3 separate regions of the Homo sapiens genome follow, and all the other regions are linked to region 1. The links come from fine-mapping of genetic effects on plasma protein levels. A gene starts in region 1. Each other region holds a variant in brackets. All regions are shown on one strand. Distances are from middle to middle.

Region 1 (8,183 bases):
CTTTTGTAATTCACTCTAAGATATTTTGATCCTGTTTTCATTCAGAATTAGTCATTGGTCCTCTCTAACACTTTTGTGCTTTTTCCTCTGCTTTGCTTTTAAATTAAAATGCCTTCATTGTTTTTCCAATTTAAAAAAGCAATGCATGTTTGGTGGAAAAACTTTTCAGAAAATACAGAAAGATGTAAAAAAGAAAATTAAAACATTGCAACTCGTGGATTTGCACTCAGCATGTTGGTAACCTTAGAAACACATTGCTGGGAATAGTTTTTTTTTGTTTGCTTTATCTAAATGAGATCTTACTATTTATTTTACTTTTATTATCTGCTTCTTGCCTGAACAATTTGTCTTTCCAAGTGAATAAATGCAGATCTACATTGACATTATTATGGCTGAAAAACAATTAATTGTACAGCTATAATATTCTTTAACCCAGGGTGTCTTAACTTCAGCACTATTGACATTTTGGGCTGAATAATTCTTTGTTGTGGGAGGCTGTGTTGTGCACTGAAGGATATTTAATGCCTCCCTGCCCTCTGTATCAGCACTAGATGCCAGTAGCTCCCATCCCTAGTTATGACAATCAAAAATGTCTCAAGATATTGCCAAATGTCTGCTGTGGGCACTACTGCCTCAAGTTGAGAACCACTGATCTAACCAATCTGCTGTTGTTTGACATTTAGGTTTTATCTACTTTGTCACAATTTAAAGCAGCAGCACTTATGAAGCTCCTAACATATACAAACTCAACACATCTTCAAATTACTTCTATAGCATAAATTTCTAGCAAGGAATGGCACATACAAAATTTTGATGTCTATTCCCAGATTTCCCTCCAGAAAGATTGTATTAATTTAGAACACCATTGAAACAGCATAAATGTCATTTCCTGAGATCCTGTCTACTTCCAGGTATTGTCAATCTTTTTAATCTTGCTTTGTGATAAGCAAAACAAAGTATTACTTTACCCTTTTAACTTGTAATTCTTTGATTGCTTACCAGGTTGGTAACCTTTACTATATTTATTAGCTATTTGTGTTACTGCTTTTATGAACTGCTTATTCATCTCCTTTGCTCATTCTTTATTTTGTAAGAGCATTAATTCCTTCTTCCAGCTTGTAATTTTTCTCATAACCTGATTTAAACCTTTCTTCTTATAACCTTTATAAGGTTTTCTGTACAGAAGTCATACATTTGTATGTTTTCAAATTATTAGCCTTTTTATTATGGTTTTACCTTTAATGGTGCCATACTTAGAAAGATCACCTCTAGGTCCAGGCCTGGTGGCTCACACCTGTAATCCCAGCACTCTGGGAGGCTGAGGCAGGCAGATAATTTGAGGCCAGGAGTTCGAGACCATCCTGGCCAACGTGGTGAAACCCCGTCTCTACTAAAAATACAAAAATTAGCCAGGCGTGGTGGTGGGCACCTGTAATCCCAGCTACTCAGGAGGCTGAGGAAGGAGAATTGCTTGAACCCGGGAGGTGGAGGTTGCAGTGAGCTAAAATTGTGCCACTGCACTCCAGCCTGGGCAACAGAGCAAGACTCTATCTCAAAAAAAAAGAAGAAAGAAAGAAGATCACCTCTAAAATCTCTAAACTTCAGTATTTTACTCTATTAGGCTAACCTTTTATTTTGCTGTTATCTTTCATACTCTTAACACTAAATTTTTTTTTCTCTCTTGACCAGTGCACCTTAAACTTGAATGTACATATACATCATCTGGAAATCTTATTAAAATGTGTGTTCTGATTCAGTAGGTTTGGAGTGGAGTGACAGATTCTACATTTCCAACAAGCTCCCAGGTGATGCCAGTGCTGTCCCTGGCCTGCACTCTGAGTTACTAGCTCCTAAACCTTCAGCACTCAGTCCTCTGTACCCCCTACCTCCATTCTCTGACTCCTTCCTGAAGTTGCCTCCCTTCCTACCTAGTGTGAACCCCAATGGCAGCAATTTCAACTATAGCTCATCTCTGTTTTTCCAGAACAACAATCCTGGCAATCTCCATTCCAGTATTGATGAAGCCACCATTTCTTCCAGTCTCCAGCCACAGCACCCTGCAGGAAATCAGATAGTGTCCACGTACTTCTCTTAAAAAGATAGGATTTCTAAGGTACATCAGCAAGCCTTCACTTTGTTCCCACCCAGTTCCCTTTCCCATTCCTAGAGTAACTTTGCCTAAATTTAATCTTCTCAAGCTCCAGTCCCCCTCCTCAGACCTCTTAGTCAATGAACAACAATGAAAGGGAAACGTCTTCAACCCTTCCAGTGGAAATAACATTTAGCATAGTGACTACTGCACAATTAAAAAAAAAAAAACCTACTCAAAGACTCTACAATGTCATACTAAGACTTCCAACTCTTAGGCCAGGCAAGGTGGCTCACTCATGTAATCCCAGCACTTTGGGAGGCTGAGGCAGAAGGATCACTTGAGGCCAGGAGTTCAAGACTAGCCTGGCCAACATGGTGAAACCTGGTCTCTATTAAAAATGCAGAAGTTAGGCATGTGTGGTGTAAAAATACAAAAGTTACGTAGGTGTGGCGATGCGTGCCTGTAATCCCAGGTACGTTAGAGGCTGAAACACAAGAATCGCTTGAACCTGGAAGGCAGAGGCTGCAGTGAGCTGAGATTGCACCACTGCACTCAAGCCTGGGCAACAGAGTGAGACTGTATCTCAAAACAAACAAACAAACAAACAAACAAACAAACAATAAAACAACTTCTCTTTAAGAAAAAAAAAAAGATGGCCAGGCACGGTGGCTCACGCCTGTAATCCCAGCGATCTGGGAGGCCGAGGCAGGCAGATCGCCCGAGGTCGGGAGTTCCAGACCAGCCTGGCCAACATGGTGAAACCCCGTCTCTACTAAAAATACAAAAATTAGCCGGGCCTGGTGGCAGGTGCCTGTAATCCGAGCTACTCGGTAGGCTGAGGCAGGAGAATTGCTTGAACCTGAGAGGAGGTTGCAGTGAGCCGAGATCATGCCATTGCACTCCAGACTGGGCAACAGAATTGAGACTCCATCTCAAAAAATAAAGAAAGAAATAAAAAATTAAAAAAAAAATTCCAACTCTTGGAAAATTCCCTTTAAAGAGTTACGAATTAAGCTGGTTTATTTATGTAATAAACGCTTCGCACAGTTCTTACAATGTGCCTGCCAACCTTATTTAGGTAGGTACAATTAAGACTTCCACTTTACACACCAGAAAATAAGGCACAGAGTCGACACAGCCACTGAGTGTCAGAGCAAGAATTGGCACTCATCCCGTGAGCGCCTCAGTTCTTTTTTTTTCTTTATATATACTTTAAGTTCTAGGGCACATGTGCACAACTGTGGCACATATACACCACGGAATACTATGCAGCCATAAAAAAGGATGAGTTCATGTCCTTTGTACGGACATGGATGAAGCTGGAAACCATCATTCTCAGCAAACTATCGCAAGGGCAGAGCGCCTCAGTTCTTAAACCACTCTTCTATGCTGCGGCAGAATCACTGGAAGTCTCAGGGAGTCCTGAGTGCGCAATTCTAGGAAAAGTATCTATATCTGTAAGAAAGAAGGGGCAGGGAATCTAACGGTTCTCAGCTCTTGAAGGCACATTAGATTCATTCAAGGTCCTCTCTAAAAATACACTTTCTTGGGCCTCCACGAGAAAAATTCTATTCAATTAGTCGTGGGCTTGCATCCGTATTTTTAGTCTGTAAAAGTGGAATGTTATCTCAAATCAGTGGTTTTCAAACTTTTTATATTCTGCGGACCTTGACACGGGCCCCCAATACCCTGACACGGTTACTTACAATCCGGGAGAGAGTGGGAGAAAGGGGGAGAGAGGGAAGGGGAGAGGGGGAGGGGAGAGAGAGAGAATGAATGAGAATGAATCTTTTAGAGAGGTAGAGGGGGTTGGCCCGTGCCACAAACCACCTCTCAGGTTTGAGTGAAGCCTTCGTTCTCTCTCGTGCAGAGACCATGCCATCCTTCCAGAAAGGAGCATTTTAGGACGTTTTAGGACGAGAGACCTGTAATTGGCCTAAGACTCAGGTGCAGGTGGAGGAAGCATCGGATTTACAACAGTGGTCCTGCCTTCTTCGATGTGACTTCCAGTTTTAAATTCAATTCTAATTTACACAAATCCCACCCACTATGTAAACTTGTTGGAAAATGTCCTGCACTCTGCACTTCGTGGCATTTAAAACTTCCACACACGCGCGCGTTCTTTCTCGAAGCCCCGTGATTGCTTAGCCTCGCTGGGCAGCTTGGCACTGCTGGGAGCTTGGCTCGCCCTGCCGGGGCCGACGCCGCCCGTCCCGCAGGAGCCCGCGCGGGGCTCAGGGCACTCAGGACTCCGCATGCGTCCCGGCTCCAGGTGGGCCCCGGCACCGCCAACCGCAGGAAACCCGCCGAGCCCTAAACGTCTCCCAAGCGGCTGCAGTCTGCGACAGAGAGTGTCCCTCGGTGGAGCGCCCTGTGGCTGCCCAGGCTACAGCCGTGGCCGAGGCGAGGACACACTTCTGACCTGGGGCTCCAGCAAAGACTGTCCGCGAGCGGCGACTCCATGCCCGCAGCCCTCCGCCCAGCTCAGCCGCCCGGCCGCGGGCACCAGCAGCCGCGCCACGAAAGGGCGCACCGCGCGGGCGCCGTCTCTCCTAGGTGCGAAGGCGGCTGAGGCCCCGCCCGGGAGGCACCCGCGCGGCTCCGGAGTGGGCCGGAGGGACGTCCGGGGGCGGGGCCCGGGCGCGCCCGCCCTCTGACCGGGCTATAACACCCGGCCCCGCCGGGCGGCCGCGGGTGGGTAGAGGTGCGCGCCTGGGACCTGGTGAGGCTGGGGGTGCGCGGGGCCGGGCGCAGCTGTGGCAGCTGCCGGACGGCGGAGGCGCCAGGAGGAGGAGGAGAGGGAGGCGCGGGCGGCTGGGTCGAGGGCACCGAGGCTGCCCGTGCTCCCGGTCTCTGGTTGCACGGCTCACTCCCGAAGGTGTTGCTTCCAGCTTTTGCCTCCTTAGGAGGCAGGGAGCGTCAGTGTCGGGAGACCCTGAGACCGGAGTACCGAGACGTAGCTGGTGATGCCCCCGCCTGCCCTCATGTGTTCTCAGGTTCTTCTTATTTTTATTCATCTCTAGAACATGGACTTCCCGTGCCTCTGGCTAGGGCTGTTGCTGCCTTTGGTAGCTGCGCTGGATTTCAACTACCACCGCCAGGAAGGGATGGAAGCGTTTTTGAAGACTGTTGCCCAAAACTACAGTTCTGTCACTCACTTACACAGTATTGGGAAATCTGTGAAAGGTAGGGTCCGTCTCGTGAACACTTTGCCAAACCCTCAGTCCTCCCTTTCAGTATTCATTAAATATGCCCCAGCTTCCTGTCTGCTCTTCCACGCACCTACTCTGAGTGGCACAGAACAAGTCAACCGGTACCGTGCGTGTTGGTTGTTTTCTGCTTTTGTTGGGAGGAATAGTAGGAAGAACTGAATTTTACTGGACTTGTCCATTGTAATTCAGTGTCACTGAGTCCTTTCCATTATTGGAGTTCTTCTGTCTTTTTGGATCTTGCAGACATTGGTTATTTGGGATGTATGTTTTAGTTCCTTTTCAAGATAAACTCCCAAGTAAGTCCGTTTATCCGTTTCAGTTCCCCTTTGTGTGGGCTTCTTTATATATGACTTGGACTGTTAATGTCATTTCTTCATGTCTCTTTTAAACTGAAATAATGCAGTTTTGTTGGTAAGATTTCTGTGTCATCTGTAGTTAGCCTTTTATTTAAAGTTATGCAAAACTATCATTTCTGCAAGTTTCTTTTAATCTAAGTAGTACAGTTCTGTTGGTTAGATTTGTGTCGTGTATAATTAGCCCTATGGCTTAAAGTTATGCAAAAAAGTGGTTCTATGATTAAAGGCTGTTTTTAAAATGTATCCATTTGAAGAAGACAATGCTAGATAATGAATATATATTAGTAGTGATTGAAACTCTTCCCAGCATTTTCATATTTATCATTAATAATTTATTGTTCTAAGTTAGAAACTACATAAAGTTATTTTCATTTTTATAGACAGCAAGTTTGAATCAGATAAATTAAATAATTTGTTCAAGGTCTCCCAGATGGTGAATTTTATAGCCAGGACTGGCACCCATCCGGCCAAGGCAAATAATTTGATCAGATATCGTTATTTCATCTTTCTTTCTTTCTTTCTTTCTTTCTTTTTTTTTTTTTTTTTTTTTTGGTCAGAGTCTCGCTCTGTTGCCCAGGCTGGAGTGCAGTGGCGTGATCTCGGCTCACTGCAACCTCCGGCTTCCTGAGTTCAAGCAATTCTCCTGCCTCAGTCTCCCGAGTAGCTGGGATTACAGGAATGCGCCACCACAGCTGGCTAATTTTTTTGTATTTTTAGTAGAGATGGGGTTTCACCATATTGGCCAGGCTGGTCTCAAACTCCTGACCTTGTGATCCTCCTGCTTCGGCCTCCCAAAGTGCTAGGATTACAGGTATGAGCCACCGTGCCCGGCCGAGATACCATTATTACTTAATCATCTTTTATTATCCTGATGTTCCCAAAGAGGTTACCAGAAAACTTAGTCCTTAAATCAAAAGTTTCATAAATTTTATGCAATTTGGATCTCAACTTTTTGTAAGGTGTGTTCAAACTCTACCTTGATTTTAGCTCTGAACTTTTGAGTCAATTGAGAGTCTCATAATTACCATATTCTTCATCATTTTTCAAAAAAATCAAGGCTATGGCTTCTATATTAAAGAAAAAGTATTATATAAATGTATTTATGTGCAATGCGAAGTCAATATCCTGGGCTGTGTGTAATAGTAACTTTGTTTTTAAACAGCATTGCCAAAGAGATGGTGCCAGAATTACTCTATATTGCTCTATAATCCAAAATTATAGAGGTTGGGTGTGTGAGAAATCATATCTTGAATCAGCATACGTATTCAGCCTTCTGAAATCATTTTTCCCTAGGGCTAGAGTAGAGCAATTTAAAAAGATCTAGGAATACTAATTATATTAATTAAAAATATATAGAACACAACTAGCTTGAGTTATTGTTCAGTCATCATTTCAACCACAAGATGATGAGGATGTTGTTAATTTTAAGTACTAAGTGATTTGGTAAGGTTTTGTATTTTCAAACACAATGTGCTTGTGACAGTTGGGGGCTCTCTTTCCTAATATGAATCAGCAGTTGTGATCTATCCTGCATGATATCAAACCACAATCACAGTGAAAGTCAGCAGGCTTAATTTTGTTTTTAATTTTACCTTGTATGCACTCTTGCGGTTAAAGGCTTGAGGAGTTATCATGTAAAAATAAAATCTGACACTAGTGGTTAAATATTTGTGTTGAATATGTTGTTCTGAATAATAACTCGGATTAAGAAAAATCCCAAATCTGCCATTTGGCTCCAACTGGTAGATGAAACTGTATGCCAGTAACTGGGAGTCAGTTGCCAAAGTGTCACTGCACATTAGTGTGACAATTGAGAGATGGTGCTCCTTTGTTGGTGGTCTTTTTCACTAGATATTTTCCCTAACCATTCTGCCCTCTGATGTAAGATAAGTTTGCTTAGAAAACAGAATTTATGACCAGGCCCAGTGACTCATGCCTGTAATCCCAGCACCTTGGGAGGCCGAGGCGGGAGGATCACCTGAGGTCAGGAATTTGAGACCAGCCTGGCCAACATGGTGAAACGTTGTCTCTACTAAAAATACAAAAAATTAACCAGACATGGTGGTGTGCACCTGTGGTTCCCGCTACTAGAGAGGCTGAGACCGGAGAATAGCGTGAACCCAGGAGGCAGAGGTTGCAGTGGGCCAAGATCATGCCACTGCACTCCAGCCTGGGTGACAAGAGTGAAACTCTATCTCAAAATAAAAGAAAATAAACAGAATTTATTATACACGTGTTATTTATTTATTTATTTATATTACATGTATTAACGTGGGCAGTCTTACCCAGAAGGGAAAGTAATATTCCTAAGTAACTAAATACATGTTTAGTTTTTGTAAAAACTTAAATATATGTGCTATGCCTATGTAAATATATGCATATCACATATTTTCTTTGTTGTAATTGTGGATTATATTCTGCTTGTTTTTTCATTTCATGTTATTTCCTTAGATATTTCCATGAATTGACAAAGTCGGTAGATGTGAATTCGTTGCTGTTTAGTATTCTATCCTCTTGATTATG
Region 2 (8,183 bases), 38 kb after region 1:
TTAATTGAGTTGTTTATTTTCTTATTGTTGGGTTTTCAGAATTCTTTCTGTATTTTGGATAACTCTTTCATCAGACATGTCTTTTGCAAACATTTTCTCCAAGTCTGTGGCTTACCTTTTCATTCTCTTGATCCCTCCAGCTTTTTATTTAGAAAATTTTCAGTCCTATAGAAAAAAATACAAAAATAGTAAAATAAGCACTCACACATTATTCATATACATCCACCAGTTGTTAATATTTTGCCACATTTGCTTTATCTCTCTCATGAGCTCCATCTGTTGATTTTACTGAACCATTAGAAGTGATAAATGGCATGTCACATCATCCCAAAAAACACCAATATGCATCTCCTAAGCATGACTTCTTACTGCCTAATCATGACACATCATTATTAAACTAAAAATAATAACTCAGTAATATCCAACAACATACTGCATTTTTAAAGTTCTCCAGTAGTTCCCAGAATCAAATCAAGCAAGGCTCACCCATCGTCTACAGTCTCACAATCTAGGACAGTTCCCCTGCCTTTTTTTGGCATTGACCGATTCATATTGAACCAATTTTATGTCATTGGTTGATTCCTAATGAACCATTTCCTTGTCTACAAGCTCTTGGCTTGCCCTCTTACAGTGATGAGTTGGAGTCTCTCCATGACAGCACCAGACTGGAAATTCTTAACATGCTTTCCAGGCTCATTAACATTGAGATAGTCAAAATCTACACGATGTCCTCAATAATTTTGAGAACAGGCCATGAAAGAAAATGTTGTGAAAAATGTGTTTATGGTTAATGATTCAACACAGTTAACAGAGGTGACTTGGCTTTCTGCCCTGCCCTCATGGCAACATGCGGCTTCCCAGTTCAGCACTGTCCTCTGCTGTTAGGGCCTGGGAATTCTGAATGAGATTCAGTCCTTGGAGTTGAAAAAGTAATTTACCTGATGCTTGGTGGTGTGAATGTTTGTGACAGTTTTTGTGCTAATACATTTTGAAGGACATGTTCTCTCAAAATAGCCCCTTCCACTTTCTGAATCCACACTCCAGTTTTCTTTTTAACTTCAGTGAGTGGTAGTCTATTTGACCTGATGTGCAGATCTTCTGGCACATACATTTCTGCTGTCTCTTGGCATAACAAATTGGCAGTCTATCCCTATGTTATGTACACTGTTTATATTGAAAATTTGTCTTTAATTGGTCTGATACTACATCATCTGCTAGGGCCAGTAGTTTGTCATCAGCCAATTTGTACACCTGAGGCCCTCAAACAAACACGTGCTTACAATGTTTCTGGCACTATTTTTAAAGCTTGTAAGAATTAAATGAGATAGCACAACAACCCCATGAGGGTAAGTACCGTTAATCCCATAATATGGATGAGGAAACTGATTCATTTAGAGGGATTAAGCAATTTGCCCAATACCACATGGCTAGTAAGTGACAGAGCTGGGTTTTAGCTCTGACACTTTGATTCTGGAACCTGCACATTTCATCATTATGTCAGATGCCCTGAAGAGGATACTGTATATCATCTCATCTCACATGCTGTGTTCAGGCAGGTGACGTGCTGCTCAATGCTGGTTTTGATGTCTTTACTAAACTACTGATCTATTTTTGAGATTTAAATCTCAAAACAGTGATACTAGTGAGAAGTAGTCCACCTTTGTTAATCCACCAAATGTTCCGGTTAGGGAACCTAATTTTGGTAACTTCAAGGCCTCTCCTGCTATTGGGAGCTAAGCATCCTTCACTCTGGACTCTCACTTGCTTCACTTTAGAATGAGAGCTTTTTAGGGTAAAACTCAGGAAGTAGGATGACTGAAAGAAAAGCCTTTCTTCTCCACAGTAGCTTATGGGGAAACTAGTAAATTAATTGCCATTATTCCTTGCCACTAAAGGATGAGTTCTTATGGTAGCAATAAATAGACAATAGGGCTGTGCAGACCTCCAACAAACTGTCTTTTCTGGGGTCAAAAGGGGTCTGAATTAACCTCTTCTTAAATTACAGCTCTGTGACACCTGCAGGCACTCATAACAAATAAGAACACCAGGCCAGGCACAGTGGCTCATGCCCGTAATCCTAACATCTTGGGAGGCTGAGGTGGGTGGATTGCTTGAGCTCAGGATTTCAAGACCAGCCTAGACAGCATGGCAAAACCCCATCTCTACAAAAAAAAAAAAAAAATACACAAATTAGCCAGGCGTAGTGGTCCATGCTTGTAGTCCCAGATACTCAGGAGGCTGAGGTGGCTGACTTGAGCCCTGGGAGGTCAAGGCTATAGTGAGCCATGATTGCACCACTGCATTCCTGCCTGGCTGACGGAGTGAGACCAATAGGGCAGCAAGAAACAAAACCTCAACACTGAACCGGAATGTCCATGACATACTGTAAAAAAAGAAACCTCAAATGGACAATAACTGTATAGTGCTAGTTGTAATGATTGTGCCTTTTTTTTTTTTTTTTTTTGAAACGGAGTCTCGCTCTGTCACCCAGACTGGAGTGCAATGGCACGATCTCCACTCACTGCAACCTCTGCTTCCCGGGTTCAAGCGATTCTCCTGCCCAAGCCTCCTGAGTAGCTGGGATTACAGGCACACACCACCACGCCCGGCTAATTTTTTGTAACTTTAGTAGAGACGAGGTTTCCCCATATTGGCCAGGCTGCTCTGGAACTCCTGACCTTGTGATCTGCCCACCTTGGCCAAGAAATCTCTTTAAGTATTCATTTGTACTTTAAGGTAATGCTCGATCTCGCTCTTAGTACAGCTGAATTGTCCTTCAAAAAGATGATCTGGTTATGTTTGACCTCTTCCTCAAGGGACCAAAAAGGGAAGTTCTCAGCTTTTTATAGTATGAGGTCCCTAGAGGTTTTCACTTTGGGGATTTAAAAACAAGTTTCCTGTAGCTATATGGAGGAAAAAAAAAAAAAAACCTAAAGGGGAACATGGAAGAATTATAATGATTGGGGCATGATAATTATGTCCAGTTTTTAAAACTCCATTCTTAAAAATGTCTTATAATTTATAGGTTAAAAATTTAAATGTTTAGAGGAAGCAGGACAGGTTTATGAGTCTCTGACCTGGGAATGGAGTGGGAGGAATAGAGAAGGTGGGGTTGCAAGAGGAGAAAGGCAGAGGAATTTCCTACCGTCTTCCTGTTTTTTGTTGATGGTTAGTGATTAATGAGACAAGCTGTTCTGTTTCTCTGGGAGTCTTGACTGTCTTGAAGAAAAAAAAGAAAATTTATTGCAACCCAATGCAGCTTCAGATTTTTCCTCTATTTTTTTTTTTCAATTAAAAACGTAACTGTCCCTAATTTAGGAACTGAAATTCCCAAACCTCCCCATTCACCTATTCAGGAAGAAATGAAATGGAACCTAACATCTACATTTCTTGGGTATAATATCAAAACTTTAATACTATGGGGATGAACATGTAAGCAAATGCAACTCTATCTCCCCATAATGTTGGAAGAATCTAACTTGAAACCAGACATTTGGTTTGGATCTTGGCACTTTCTTGCATGGAAATATTCCAAGAAGGTGCATTGACTCTTGATTTGATCTAGAAAACTGGGTTCTTTCCAGAGCCCACCCAGGATGGCACCTCATAGACTAACTATGGACTTTTCCATCAATACTGGAAAACAGTTTCATCTAATCCCCGGACCAAAGGTGACTCGGACTCCAAGTGAGCTTCCTCAGGTTTGTTTGTTAATTTATCCAATCATCCATTCACTCAGCAAACATTTATCAATCATTTGCTATGTATATGCCAGACACTACACCAGATTTTGCAAGCACAGAGATA[C/AC]AAAATCCCTTGCTTGCAGGAAAACCTTTGGTTTCAATAAATGATAGGAGAGGGGTTGCAGGGGTACTATCTATGAAAGTTCAAAGGAAGCATCTAACTTAGGGTGGTAGGGGATGGGGCTGAGCAGAAGGATCAGGAAGGTGTTGGATGGCAGGAGGCTTTTAGCTGAGCCTTGAAAAGGCAAGGGGAGGTTGGCCGCTTTGATGGGGTGGGCTAAGGACTATCCATGCAGAAGAAAGAGCAGGTATTAAAGGTGTCAAGGCAGGGAGTTACCTCCTTTGGGAACTACACATAAAGAAGAATGGCTAGGGCCTGGTGTATGGGATTGGGGTGGGAAACCCAAGGCAGGAAGAAGACAGATCCCAAGAGGTCTGGTGTGCATGCTGAGGGGATCAGGTGCCATCTCAATGCCATGGGGAGTCATTGAAGGAAAAGCAGTTAGAGCCATGGGATCCAGTTCACATATGATCAATCACCCAAACAAAGGAAAGTTTACTCAACAACATGTTTTCATTTGGACTTCATTTTGTCAAAGCATGAAAGTGATGTCAGAAATAGAAATGAGTGTATTCATGGCACACCACCACACCCAGCTAATTTTTGTACTTTTTGCAGAGAACTCCTGACCTCAAATGATCCACCTGCCTCGGCCTCCCAAAGTGCTGGGATTACAGGCGTGAGCCACTGTGTCTGGCCTAAAACACATTTTCTAAGATTTCTTTACTTCTGGGCCACCTCCACAAAATTTTATGGTTCTGGGAACCCCTATCTGAAAAAGCACAGGTATCAGCAATAAGTATAATGAACACTCACTAGAGGGAAAGTCATTTTGGTTTGGGTTGGTTATGGAAGCAGTGTCATATGAAAAGGGCTGGACTGTACTGCAGAAATAGAAGACCCACAAATTGCTATGGCTTATAACAGAAAAATAAAGATTTAGATGTCACTCATATGTCCATTATTGAACAGTTGTGACTCTGCTCCCTGTCACCTTCCCTCCAGGACCGAAGCTGACAGAGCACCCTCTATCCAATCATTGCCTGTCTTATGTCAGAGGGAAAGGAGATGGCAAATCATGCATCAGCCCTTAAAGCTCTGCCCAGAAGTGGTACATTACCATTTCTGCCCACATTTCACTGGCCAGAGCAGGTCACATGATATGCCTGAGTTCATTAGGGCACCAGATGTTGGGCAACCAATAATACAACCCACCACTGAGGTCTTTACTAAGAAGATGACCTGGGCCTTAGGGAATGGCCATGATTTACCTGGTAGACACAGCAGGGGAGCAAAAGGAAAATATGACAATATTTTTATGAAATCAAGACTTGGCCACATGAAACTTTTTTTTTTTTTTTTTTTTTTGAGACTGAGTCTCGCTCTGTCACCCAGGCTGGAGTGCAGCGGTGCGATCTCGGCTTACTGCAACCTCCACTTCCCAGGTTCAAGTGATTCTCATGCCTCAGCCTCCCAAGTAGCTGGGATTACACGCACCACCATGCCCAGCTAATTTTTGTATTTTTAGTGGTGACAGTTTCACTGTGTTAGCCAGGCTGGTCTCAAACTCCTGACCACAAGTGATCTGCCCTCCTCAGTCTTCCAAAGTGCTGGGATTACAGGCATGAGCCACCACACCTGGCCGTGACACCCTTAGAAAACTAACTTCAAGGCAGAATGCTTCACAGTGACAAATCTTAGGATGCCACTTTATAGAAATATTCTGAAGAGAGAAAAACCCAGGTGAGTCAGAGCAGCCTGGGGAAACTTCTTAGAACCAGGATTTTGTGGAATTCAGAGGATTTTAAAAGGCAGAAAATCCAATGAAGCCATTTTAAGCTAAAACAATGTAAATAAGGTGGGGCTGTGCCTAGGGTACTAGGGTGCAGAAAGGAACCTGCCTCCTGTGGGCGCATTTGTGTTAGCAGGTAGTGGGAAATTCGGGTGGAGGGCAGGTGATGGAGGACCCTGAACACCGAGGGAAGACTCTGGATGTTATGTGCCAATATTTATCAAGAAAACGCAGTCCTGGAGATACACCAATAATTTTTGAAATGTTACAGTAGATACTAATTGAAACCTACAGTGCGCCAGGCACCGTTAGGTTAGCAGTGAACAAAACCAGCAACCTAAACAAAATGGTGAACACACCAGGCAGTGCCCTTGTGGGTTACATTTTGGTGAGACAGATAGTATATAGATAAACAAATATACAATCTCAAAGAGTGAAAAAGTTGTGAAGAAAGATGACACAGGATTAGAGAGTGACTAGGGTGTATATGGTGGCAGTGGTGGTGGTGGTGCAGCCAAGGGGTGGGGTGGAGGACAAGACAGCTGTGAAGACTGGTGAGCATGAGGTAGTCCCTGGTAACAACCAGCGCTCCACACCCTACCCTCAGAGTGCCATTGCAGGGTTAGCATACTCCACTGAGTAAAGCTTCCTTGTCCAGGCAATCAGTTAGAAGAGCCAGGAATGCTGGGCCCAAAGAGGTTGGCCAGAGAGAAAAGTGCAGGGGACATGGTTCCCAGATCCACGCAGAACCCCTGGGGACCACTGAGTTCCACAACCTCAACAAGGCCCAGGGTTATACTAACACAGCAGGTGGCCTCATTTTAGACCCCACACCAGAATCTGTGCAACGGGAAATTCCAGTGCAGCAGAAGTTGGAGTCAAATGCCTGCCTATTTCTCATTCCATTTTGGGAAGCCTAAACAGGGAAGCCTTCTGTGTTCCTCTCATTCCCATATTAAACTGAACTGCAAAACTCATGGCTCTAAGTAGACTTTAGAATTGACCTAGGCAGAAGAAATAGCCCAGCCCCTTCATTACTTCAGAGCAGAATAGAGCACTTACTCTTATCACAGCAGCACAAGACCCCTGGGACACCTGACTCCCTGAGACCCTTCCTTGACAGGTTCCCCTGTCCATAAACAAAGTCAGGAATTCCCAGCCCACTACACAGAATATGACAGTTAAGCTTCATTGGGATCCTGTGGCTGACCTGGGGCAGGCTAGAGGGCATCACATCTGTACAGGCTCTCAGCTTTGCGAGTTCAGAAACAGACTGGGTGTTCATGTGGACTGGCCCAAACCTGAAACTCTACAGAAATCGCAGTGCATGCCAGGTGGTTTGCCATGAAAAAAGGTGTGTGTCCCAGAGACAGGGTGTGTATGGTACAAATGGATTTTGTCCACGTCTTTCCTTCCCTTGCCAGTCCAGCCACCCTACTGTCTTTTTTTTTTTTTGTCAGTTTTTGTTTTTTTTTAATTTAAGTTCTGGGATACGTGTGCAGAGCATGCAGGTTCGTTACATAGGTATACATGTGCCATGGTGGTTTGCTGCACCTTATCAACCTGTCATCTAGGTTTTAAGCCCTGCATGCATTAGGTATTTGTCCTAATGCTCTCCCTCCCCTTGCCCCCAACCCTCCAACAGGCCCAGGTGTGTGATGTTCCCCTCCCTGTGTCCATGTGTTCTCATTGTTGAACTCCCACTTATGAGTGAGAACGTGCTTACCCTACTTTCTTTTCGGTTTGTTTTTTTGTTTGTTTTGAGACGAGTTTTGCTTTTGTTGCCCAGGCTGAAGTGCAATGGTGCAACCTCCGCCTCCTGGGTTCAAGGGATTCTTCAGCCTCAGCCTCCCGAATAGCTGGGATTACAGGCATGTACCACCACGCCCAGCTAATTTTGTATTTTTAGTAGAGACAGGGTTTCGCGATGTTAGGCAGGCTGGTCTCAAACTCCCAACCTCAGGTGATCCGCCTGCCTTGGCCTCCCAAAGTGCTGGGATTACAGGTGTGAGCCACCACGCCCGGCCTACCTACCCTACTTTCTTAGCCTATTTGCTGACTAGCATTCAAACTGAGTGCAGGGAGAACACCTAGCAGCCTGATCCCAGAAGTGCAGCTACTCCACATTCCACAGCTCTGGGGCAGAGTGACTAAGGCTCACCTGTAGTCCTTAAATGGAGAGCAATTTGGGATGTACCAGCTAATCAAATAAAACCAAGGCAGCAAACAATAGCCATCACTTCTCAAACCATCCTCATTGTGCCCCTCGACTCCCTCCTTCCATTTCCAGTTCTCCCCAGAGGGGAGACAGACAATAACCTCAACAACAGAAGCCAGTACACAGCAAGCTTGCTTCACACGTTCACGTTTCTTTTGTTTTTCTTTGATGTTTTTTCTTTGATGTTTTCCATTTTCCATCTCTGAGGTGATTAGCAGTACAGCATAGTGGTTAAGAACAGAGCAGGGACTCCACGGATAGACTACCCAGTCTTGTCCTTTGTTACAGTGGTTCTTAAGCTTTCAGGTGACTGGGAATCACCTGGAGAGCTTATTAAAACGTAGATTTCCAGCCGCGTGAAGTGGCTCA
Region 3 (8,183 bases), 63 kb after region 1:
TTGAAAATTTCTCCCTCAACTTCTTTTTTTTTTGAGGTGGAGTCCTGCTCTGTTGCCTAGGCTGGATGGAGTGCAATGGCACAATCTCGGCTCACTGCAACCTCTGCTTCCCAGGTTCAAGCGATTCTCCTGCCTCAGCCTCCCGAGTAGCTGGGACTACAGGTGCCCACCACCATGCCCGGCTAATTTTTGTATTTTTAGTAGAGACGAGGTTTTACCATGTTGCCCAGGCTGGTCTCCAACTCCTGACCTCAGGTGATCTGCCCACCTCAGCCTCCCAAAGTGCTTGGATTACAGGCATGAGCCACCGTGCCCGGCCTCAACTTTTATATTTTGTTCTATACCCATACTACCAAGACTGCTTAATCTAATTCTGTATCTAACAGAATACCAACTCAACCTAGCCTCCTAATCATGGTTTCTTTACTCTTCCTTTTCACTTTCTTTCGGTTGGGTGAATTTCATTGCCAACTCGTGTCGTGATTGTTTGCATGCTGGAGAGTGTATGATTCAGATAGCTAAGAGACAAATTCACATTTAGAGTCACATGGGGATTCTGATATCACTTCCTCTCTGTTCTTGACTTGGGACTCAGATAGGCCAGGGATTTTTGCCGATTGAACCATACTATGGCCTCTAACCAGCATTTAGACATTTAAGGAACTATGGGACTCCTGGTCACTTCCTCCTCACCTTCCTGTACCTATTCCTCCCCAAACCCTTCTGAGAAAGCTTCTTAAACCAACGATCTTTTTCACATTTTTTTGGTTTTTTTTCGAGATGGTGTGTCTCACTCTGTCACCCAAGCTGGTGGCGCGATCTCGGCTCATTGCAACCTCCGCCTCCTAGGTTCAAGCGATTCTTGTGCCTGAGCCTCCTGAGTAGTGGGGATTACAGTCACCTGCCACCATGCCCAGCTAATTTTTGTATTTTTAGTAGAGATGGGGTTTCACCATGTTGGCCAGGCTGGTCTCAAACTCCTGACTTCGGGTGATCCACCCACCTCGGCCTCCCAAAGTGCTGGGATTACAGGCTTAAGCCTCCACGCCCAGCCCCTTTTCACATTTAAAGTTACTGTCACAGTTTTATGTTACCAGCTCCTCCCCACTGGCTTTAGGGGAGGTCATAAGTAGCTCATCAAGGTTACTTCCAAAGGTGCTGGACCTTCAAAAACCTATTATATCTTAAAATTGGAACCCAGTGGGGTGTACAAGTGACTTTTTTGGTTATTAGCTTGTAAGGACTTTTTCCAGTGACAATTTTGACTATAAAAACAAAAATCTGGCCGGGCGCGGTGGCTCACACAGTAATCCCGGCACTTTGGGAGGCTGAGGCAGGCAGATCACCTGAGGTCAGGAGTTCGAGACCAGCCTGGCCAACATGGTGAAACCCTGTCTCTACTAAAAATATCAAAATTAGCCAGACATGCTGGTGGGCACCTGTAATCTCAGCTACTTGGGAGGGTGAGGCAGGAGAATTGCTTGAATCCAGGAGACGGAGGTTGTAGTGAGCCAACATGGTGCCACTGCACTCTAGCCTGGGTGACAGAGTGAGACTCTGTCTCAAAAAAAAAGGTAGTGGAAGAGGAAGATAAAAAATGAGTAGGAAAAAAAGTTGAAGTCAGGATTGGACATAATCTGACTCTAAATTTTATGGTTGCCTATGAATCTATAATTCATATATCCCAAATTTTCTTTCTTTCTTTTTTTTTTTTTTTTTTGAGACAGGGTCTCACTCTGTCACCCATGCTGGAATGCAGTGGTGCGATCTCTTCTCACTGCTGCCTCAACCTCCTGGGCAGCACAAGCGATCCTCCTACCTCAGCCTCCTGAGTAGTTGGGGCCATAGGTCTGTGTCACCATGCCTGGCTAATTTCTTATTTTATGTAGTGATGGGATCTCGCTATATTGCCCAGGCTGGTCTCAAACTCCTGGGCTCCGCCTTAGCCTCCCAAAGTGCTGAGATTACAGGCATGAGCCACTGCCACCAGCCCCAAATTTTCTTAGTCCCAATTTCAATTATTCTGTGTTCATTAGGATAACAAATGTTTAAAATGTGGTCTCTTTATGTGCCAGTGAGGGAATCAAGTGAGAAGTGGTCATCCAAGGACCGCTTATCCTTTGTCACAATGTTGAAGTCCTACAGTGAAATCATGACTGGAAATTCTTCTGAGGCTCCATGAAATCTTTTCTTGCACAGTGTCTACATGAATGTGCCTGCAGCACTCTCCTGATTTTCTCACCTGCTGCCCCTGAGTTCTCATTTACTAACCCCTCAACAACATCTGTTCTTCTGAAGCAGATTCCTTGAACCTAAAATGATAGGGAGAATTTGATGTAGTCTAAGCAGATCTTCCTATGATAAGGCTGACATTTAAATTACTTTTTTTAAATAAGAAAAATAATGACTCTCTCTCCTGGGGAGGGATTATAAAGCAAGTTCTCTCACAGGCCTTCAGTTTCCCAAGCCTTATTGATACTGCAAGCTAATTTAGGTGGATATGACAGCTTTTAACATTTTAATAGTCATGCTTTTACTTAATATATATTAGAAATATATATCTAGAAAAGTGATAATGATATGAAGTTTCTCAGGAGTTGGAAGCCAGCCTTAGCAACATAGCAAGACCCTGTCTTAAAAAAAAAAAAATCTACAATGTGATGATTTTAAGTCTGTTATCCACCAATACATACATGATAAGCTTCATATGCACCATGCATTCTCATGGAAATACGTGATTCCTGTGCTTCTCTGTAACTCAACCTCTTGCTCTCCCACTCCAGAAGATACTTTGGAAGGCAACCAAATGAAAAATGTTGTAAGAATCATTATTGCGGCCGGGCGCAGTGTCTCATGCCTGTAATCCCAGCACTTTGGGTGTCTGAGGCAGGTGGATCACTTGAGGTTAGGAGTTCAAGACCAGCCTGGCCAACATAGTGAAACCCCATCTCTACTAAAAATACAAGAATTAGCTGGGCGTGGTGGCACACGCCTGTAATCCCAGCTACTCAGGAAGCTGAGGCAAGAGAATCGCTTGAACCCAGGAGGCGGAGGTTGCAATGAGCCAAGATCGCGCCAATGCACTCCAGCCTGGGTGACGGAGTTGAGACTGTCTCAAAAAAAAAAAAAAAAAAAGGAAGCAGCAGCAGCAGCAGCATTATTCCACTCTAATTCATTTTTGCAATATGTAAACTATTTACAAATAGGTACTTTCACTCTTACTAGCATTTTTCAGCATACCTCAGGACTGATCGCCACCTGATGGCCACTTGGCAGAGCATAAGCATGCTTGAGAAAGAGTGATCTTACAAACTAGTTTGGGTCTGAGATATCATGTGTAGAGACCCCTATTGGGGAATTTGTACCGTAGGGAGTGCTTTCCTTATTGCCTCTGACCTAATAATGTCCTCTTTTCTCTTTAACACATATAGACTGTTGGGCGGGAGCTGCTGCTCCATCTGATTGACTATCTCGTAACCAGTGATGGCAAAGACCCTGAAATCACAAATCTGATCAATAGTACCCGGATACACATCATGCCTTCCATGAACCCAGATGGATTTGAAGCCGTCAAAAAGCCTGACTGTTATTACAGCATCGGAAGGTAAAGAGGGGCTGGTCTATCTTTACTTGAAAACAACACAACACAAAGGCTCCCGACAGGCACCTGTTGGCCTTGGCAAGAGGAGATGTGTCATGGTGAGAGCCCTCAGAGCCGGTGTCATGTCGCTGATGTGCCAAAGCTCAAGGCACATCAGGGCTGCCTCCGGCTTGCAGGAAGAAATGCAAATAAGGCTACTTTGCCCCGGTGCCCACCTAGCCTCTCCATCTTCATTTGCCACTCCTTCTCTCTCCCCTGCCTCCTCCCCTCTAGGCCTCCTTCCTGGAAGTACCAGGTGCTTTCTTACCTCAGCATTTTACACACACCGTTTCCCTGCCTAAATAGCATTTCCTCCAAGACTCTTTCTCTCGACCTGTCATACACTAGATCCCCTGATAAACTCTCACATCACCTGGCACTTTACTGTCAGAGCACAACTTTTAATATCTAATTTCTTGCTTCATGTCTCTCCCCCCACTACACTGCAAGCTACCTGCAGGCAGGAATCCTGTCCATTGTGTTTGTCGTTGTTAGATCCGCAGTGCCTGGCAGAGCACCCAGGCCCTTGGTAATGACCGGTTGATTTATTAGGCCAGTAGTCCAAGAACTAACCATAAGCAAGAACGGGTCTTGAAGGAGCTCTGATTTAAACAGTTTATTTTGTTTCAAGCTGCCTTGGGAGGTTTGGAATTTCTCAGATGTCTAATATACATTCATATGTATGCAATTTACATATATGTGTTTGCTTTACCAAAGCTGAACAAAATCTCACCACTTGATTCCCTCCAATTTTAAGTTTTTCAAATATATTTAAACATGGCTGTTCCACGTTTCACAAGTACTTCTGTGTAATGTGTTTAGTGTTGTTTCTGTTATCAGTTGCTACTTAACGAACCACCCCAAAATTAGCGACTTAAAGCAACAGCCTTTTTATTTACTGTTGATTCCATAGGTCAGGAATTTGGGCAGGGCAGAGCAGGGATGGCTACTGTCCGTGCCACAGGTCTGGGGCTCAGCTCTGGTCTTTCTGAGACAATTTACCTGGAGCCATGGACTCTCCGTGGACTCTCCACGTGGCGACCATTGGGATCTCAAGGTCCCAAAAGGGAGCATCTAAGAGCAGAAGTCCCAAATACAAACACTTATCAAACCTCTGCCTGCATCACAATAGCTAGTATCTCATTGGTGAGAGCAGATCACGAGGCAGGGGATGCCATGGGATGTAAGTGCCAGGTGTGGGTCATGGCAGGCCACAAGGGCAGCCATCCACCACACCCATACTCACGTTTGGAAAGACACCTGGAGCCTAAACCAAAGGGCAAGACACTGTAAGAATCCACTCCCTCATGCCCTATCAATAAGCCCTAAAATATTCTTTCTTTTAAAGGGAAAATT[A/G]TAACCAGTATGACTTGAATCGAAATTTCCCCGATGCTTTTGAATATAATAATGTCTCAAGGCAGCCTGAAACTGTGGCAGTCATGAAGTGGCTGAAAACAGAGACGTTTGTCCTCTCTGCAAACCTCCATGGTGGTGCCCTCGTGGCCAGTTACCCATTTGATAATGGTGTTCAAGGTAAGCAGGTGCGGGTCCAGTTCTGGCTTCTTAAGTCCAGAGTGGGGCTGAAAACTCTCTGCCTCTGGATGGGGATCAGCTCTCCCTTCCCCTCTTAACTTCTCTGGCAGGGTGAAAAGAGCTTCATGTTCCCAACTCTAGCCATCCTTCCTGTGATTCTTCAACAGCAGATGGGCAGTGTGGCTGAACTGACAACCCACAGCTGGACATGCATCAGTGAATTAGTGAAATTTAGATTCTAGAAAATACAATCTAAATAGTCAGATTTTGATTCTCTGACAAGAGACAACATGGCTAAAATAACATAAAACTGGAACAACTCACTTTTTTTTTTGCTAATCATATATGAACAATAATTGTTGACTCTTCTTAAAACTCTGTGGGATGAGGACCCAAAATATTACAGTAGCTTTATTCACCCCTATAATACCTAAAGAAATTGTCCTTACCTCCAGAAATTAGCAAGAGTGACTGAGAGGACACTTAATTTTTAAGCTGATTTAGGAGTTTGGATTTGTATCTGACTTATTTGGGGGCTATCACCTTGCATATGTTTATTATAAAGTAGAAAGAAGAATAGAGGAGGTGGATGAAGGATTTCTCTCTAGGGAAATTAGAGCATGTGTGTGTGATGCGATTATGTCTTTGCTAATATGGTGTTTGTGTTTCCTCTTACTCTCAAGTCAGTTTAAAGGTCTTGGTTCATCTTTTAAATGCAGCAACTGGGGCATTATACTCCCGAAGCTTAACGCCTGATGATGATGTTTTTCAATATCTTGCACATACCTATGCTTCAAGAAATCCCAACATGAAGAAAGGAGACGAGTGTAAAAACAAAATGAACTTTCCTAATGGTGTTACAAATGGATACTCTTGGTATCCACTCCAAGGTGAGTTTCTCTTCATTTCTTCCATTCTCCTTATTGCCTTCACCCAGAAGTGCCAGCTGGTTTATTTTGATCCAGCAGTTGTTAAAAGAACTTTAGGCACAATAGGCCCTTCACTCTGTCCTTATCAGCTAATATCATAAGAGCAGTGGAGATGACTGATTGTTTGAGAGATGCTCAGACATGTTCCTCATTACCAAGGGCCTTCTTCATTCATTCAGGTACTTATTCTGTGTCTGCCTACTGTGAGCCAGGAACTGAAAGATGAACAAGACACACACCTCACCCTGGAGTTGAATAGGGGAGACAGACACGCAGATAAGTAATTGTGATAGCAGTGCAATTAGAATAAAAACAGATTTAGAGAAGGTGCAGTGTACCCCAAGGGTGCACAGAGCCAAAATACAATAGGGAGTAGTGAAGAGCTTGGAGAAATGTGATGCTTACATCCCATCTAACAGGGACAGCTGCTACTAGATCTAGCTAATTATTGTCATGCAGCCTTGGGGAGCCAATACTGCCAGATCTTGCAGTTTGTAAAGAGAAGCTGAATTTGTACATGAAGTATCATGATTTTAAAGCCATTTTGCGGGCTCAACAAAAGAGCTCTTCAGACAGGATACAGTGGGAGGAGGGCCCCCAGTTCTCCAATCTTGGAATAAGACAGCCGGGTAAGGGACAGGATGAGATTGTCATGTAGGCAACATGGAAGGAGAGATATTCTTATTAGAGGGAATAATATAAACAGAAACCCGGGGTAGGAGGGACCTAGGGTGGAAGGACAGGAGGAGAGACGGACTGGAACTGGATTTCCATGCCTCAGGGGAAAACATTCCCTTTTAGACTCGTTAGCCTGACCCCACCAACAGCAAGTTGCGGCATGCATTTCTGCGTGCAGGCCACTTCCAAAGGTGCCTTCCCTAATTGTCACTTTGGATGCACAGGCTTTCAGGTAATCTTTCACAAGCTGGTATTTTTATGCCTGGGTGGCTCTCTGTCAGTTTTCCTGGTAATATAAATAAGCATAGACCACAACTGATAGGCAACAGGTCCAGGCAGCATTCCAAACCTCTCTCTGGTGTCCAAGATACAGCCCCCTCTCCTACCTTAGGGCTTCTGCATCGTCCCTGCTCTCCACAATTTGTAGCTAAGAAAGGGCCCATCCTGTCCAGTGGCAGAGCTGTCCTTCATGTTCACTGTCTAACTTTCGAAGGCAAATCCAGATGTGTAGGAAATTAGCTAGAAACGGTTGCTGCTGGGAATTGTTCCCCAGTGTGCCTGTGTGTGAGCTGTGTATCCTTCTCAGACAAAAAACAGGTGAAGCCAGCTGCCTTGAGGAGCCCAGAAGAATGTGCCTGGCCTGGCCTGGATGTTTTGTTGGCCAGGCCTGACCCGCCTTATCCAGAACTGCCCCCTCCACGCTTGGCATTCTCAGTTCTGGCTATCTGCTAGGGATCCATAATGCCTGCCTGTTTTGCTATTTAAAACAAACCCTTTGAAAGTAAGGGACCAGAGGAGAGAACTGGAAAGTCAGCATGAGCAGTGGCAGCCTGGGCTCCACAGGGGGCCGGGCCGTTCACCTCTGAGAGGCAGTGCAGCACTCTTTCTTTGATCCCCAGGAGCACTCTGGCATATTGGGGAAGCCCACAGGTGCTGGCGGAAGGTGGCCTGCACTCCAGTGTCTGTCATTTACTGGCCAAAACCCCTGAGCACTTTTCTTTAACATCTGTGATCATGTTTCCTCATCTGTAAAGTAGGGGCAATTGCTGTGAGGATTAAATGAGCTGATACAAAGCACTTCATATGGTACCTGGCAATAGTGAATGTTGGCCCATGATTCCCCCAAATTAGCATGCTTAGCTTTGCTTAGTAAGTGTATTTATAAATGATTTGTAGAAATATTTTAAAGGAATCTTATTCTAGCTTATATCCATGTAAAATGTAATTTAAGAAAGAAATGAAATTCAAAGAATCATTTTTGTAATGTAGGATTTCAAAAAATAAAAACAAAAAAGGACCCTTCCTTCACCCGTCACTTAATTTTGATGCACAGTTGAACTTCAGTCAGCTCTGATCCAGTTACCCATATGGGAATATTTAGGATTGTCTAGTCACGCCTGGGT

Which allele goes with the higher level. Alleles are on the strand shown, and positions count from the first base shown. The strength of an association depends on the size of the effect and on how common the allele is.
As copies of C replace AC in region 2, the plasma level of the protein whose gene starts at base 4,785 in region 1 goes down (moderate association).
With allele G in place of A in region 3, the plasma level of the protein whose gene starts at base 4,785 in region 1 is lower (moderate association).

The links. PIP is the posterior inclusion probability: the model's chance that the variant is causal. Protein levels are from antibody-based Olink assays in UK Biobank. Linkage for the fine-mapping came from a reference panel and not from the study's own genotypes, which makes the PIPs less certain.
Region 2: its variant is fine-mapped to the plasma level of the CPM protein (UK Biobank, PIP above 0.99).
Region 3: its variant is fine-mapped to the plasma level of the CPM protein (UK Biobank, PIP above 0.99). The variant lies in the coding sequence of CPM. If it changes the protein, the assay may bind it differently, which can mimic a change of level.

The regions. Positions count from the first base shown.
Region 1 is chr12:68,929,773-68,937,955 of GRCh38, reverse strand. CPM (carboxypeptidase M) reads left to right here and starts at 4,785. Exons shown (of 9, transcript NM_198320.5): 1 at 4,785-4,814; 2 at 5,116-5,278. The coding sequence starts at 5,119. RefSeq lists silencers at 4,406-4,515, 4,546-4,905.
Region 2 is chr12:68,892,018-68,900,200 of GRCh38, reverse strand. The region is part of intron 2 of CPM (carboxypeptidase M); the gene reads left to right. Among named protein-coding and RNA genes, the nearest start is that of CPM, 37 kb to the left of the region's middle. The variant C/AC (reference allele first, on the strand shown) is at 3,808.
Region 3 is chr12:68,867,205-68,875,387 of GRCh38, reverse strand. CPM (carboxypeptidase M) reads left to right here. Exons shown (of 9, transcript NM_198320.5): 4 at 3,432-3,604; 5 at 4,989-5,173; 6 at 5,893-6,063. Among named protein-coding and RNA genes, the nearest start is that of CPM, 62 kb to the left of the region's middle. The variant A/G (reference allele first, on the strand shown) is at 4,997.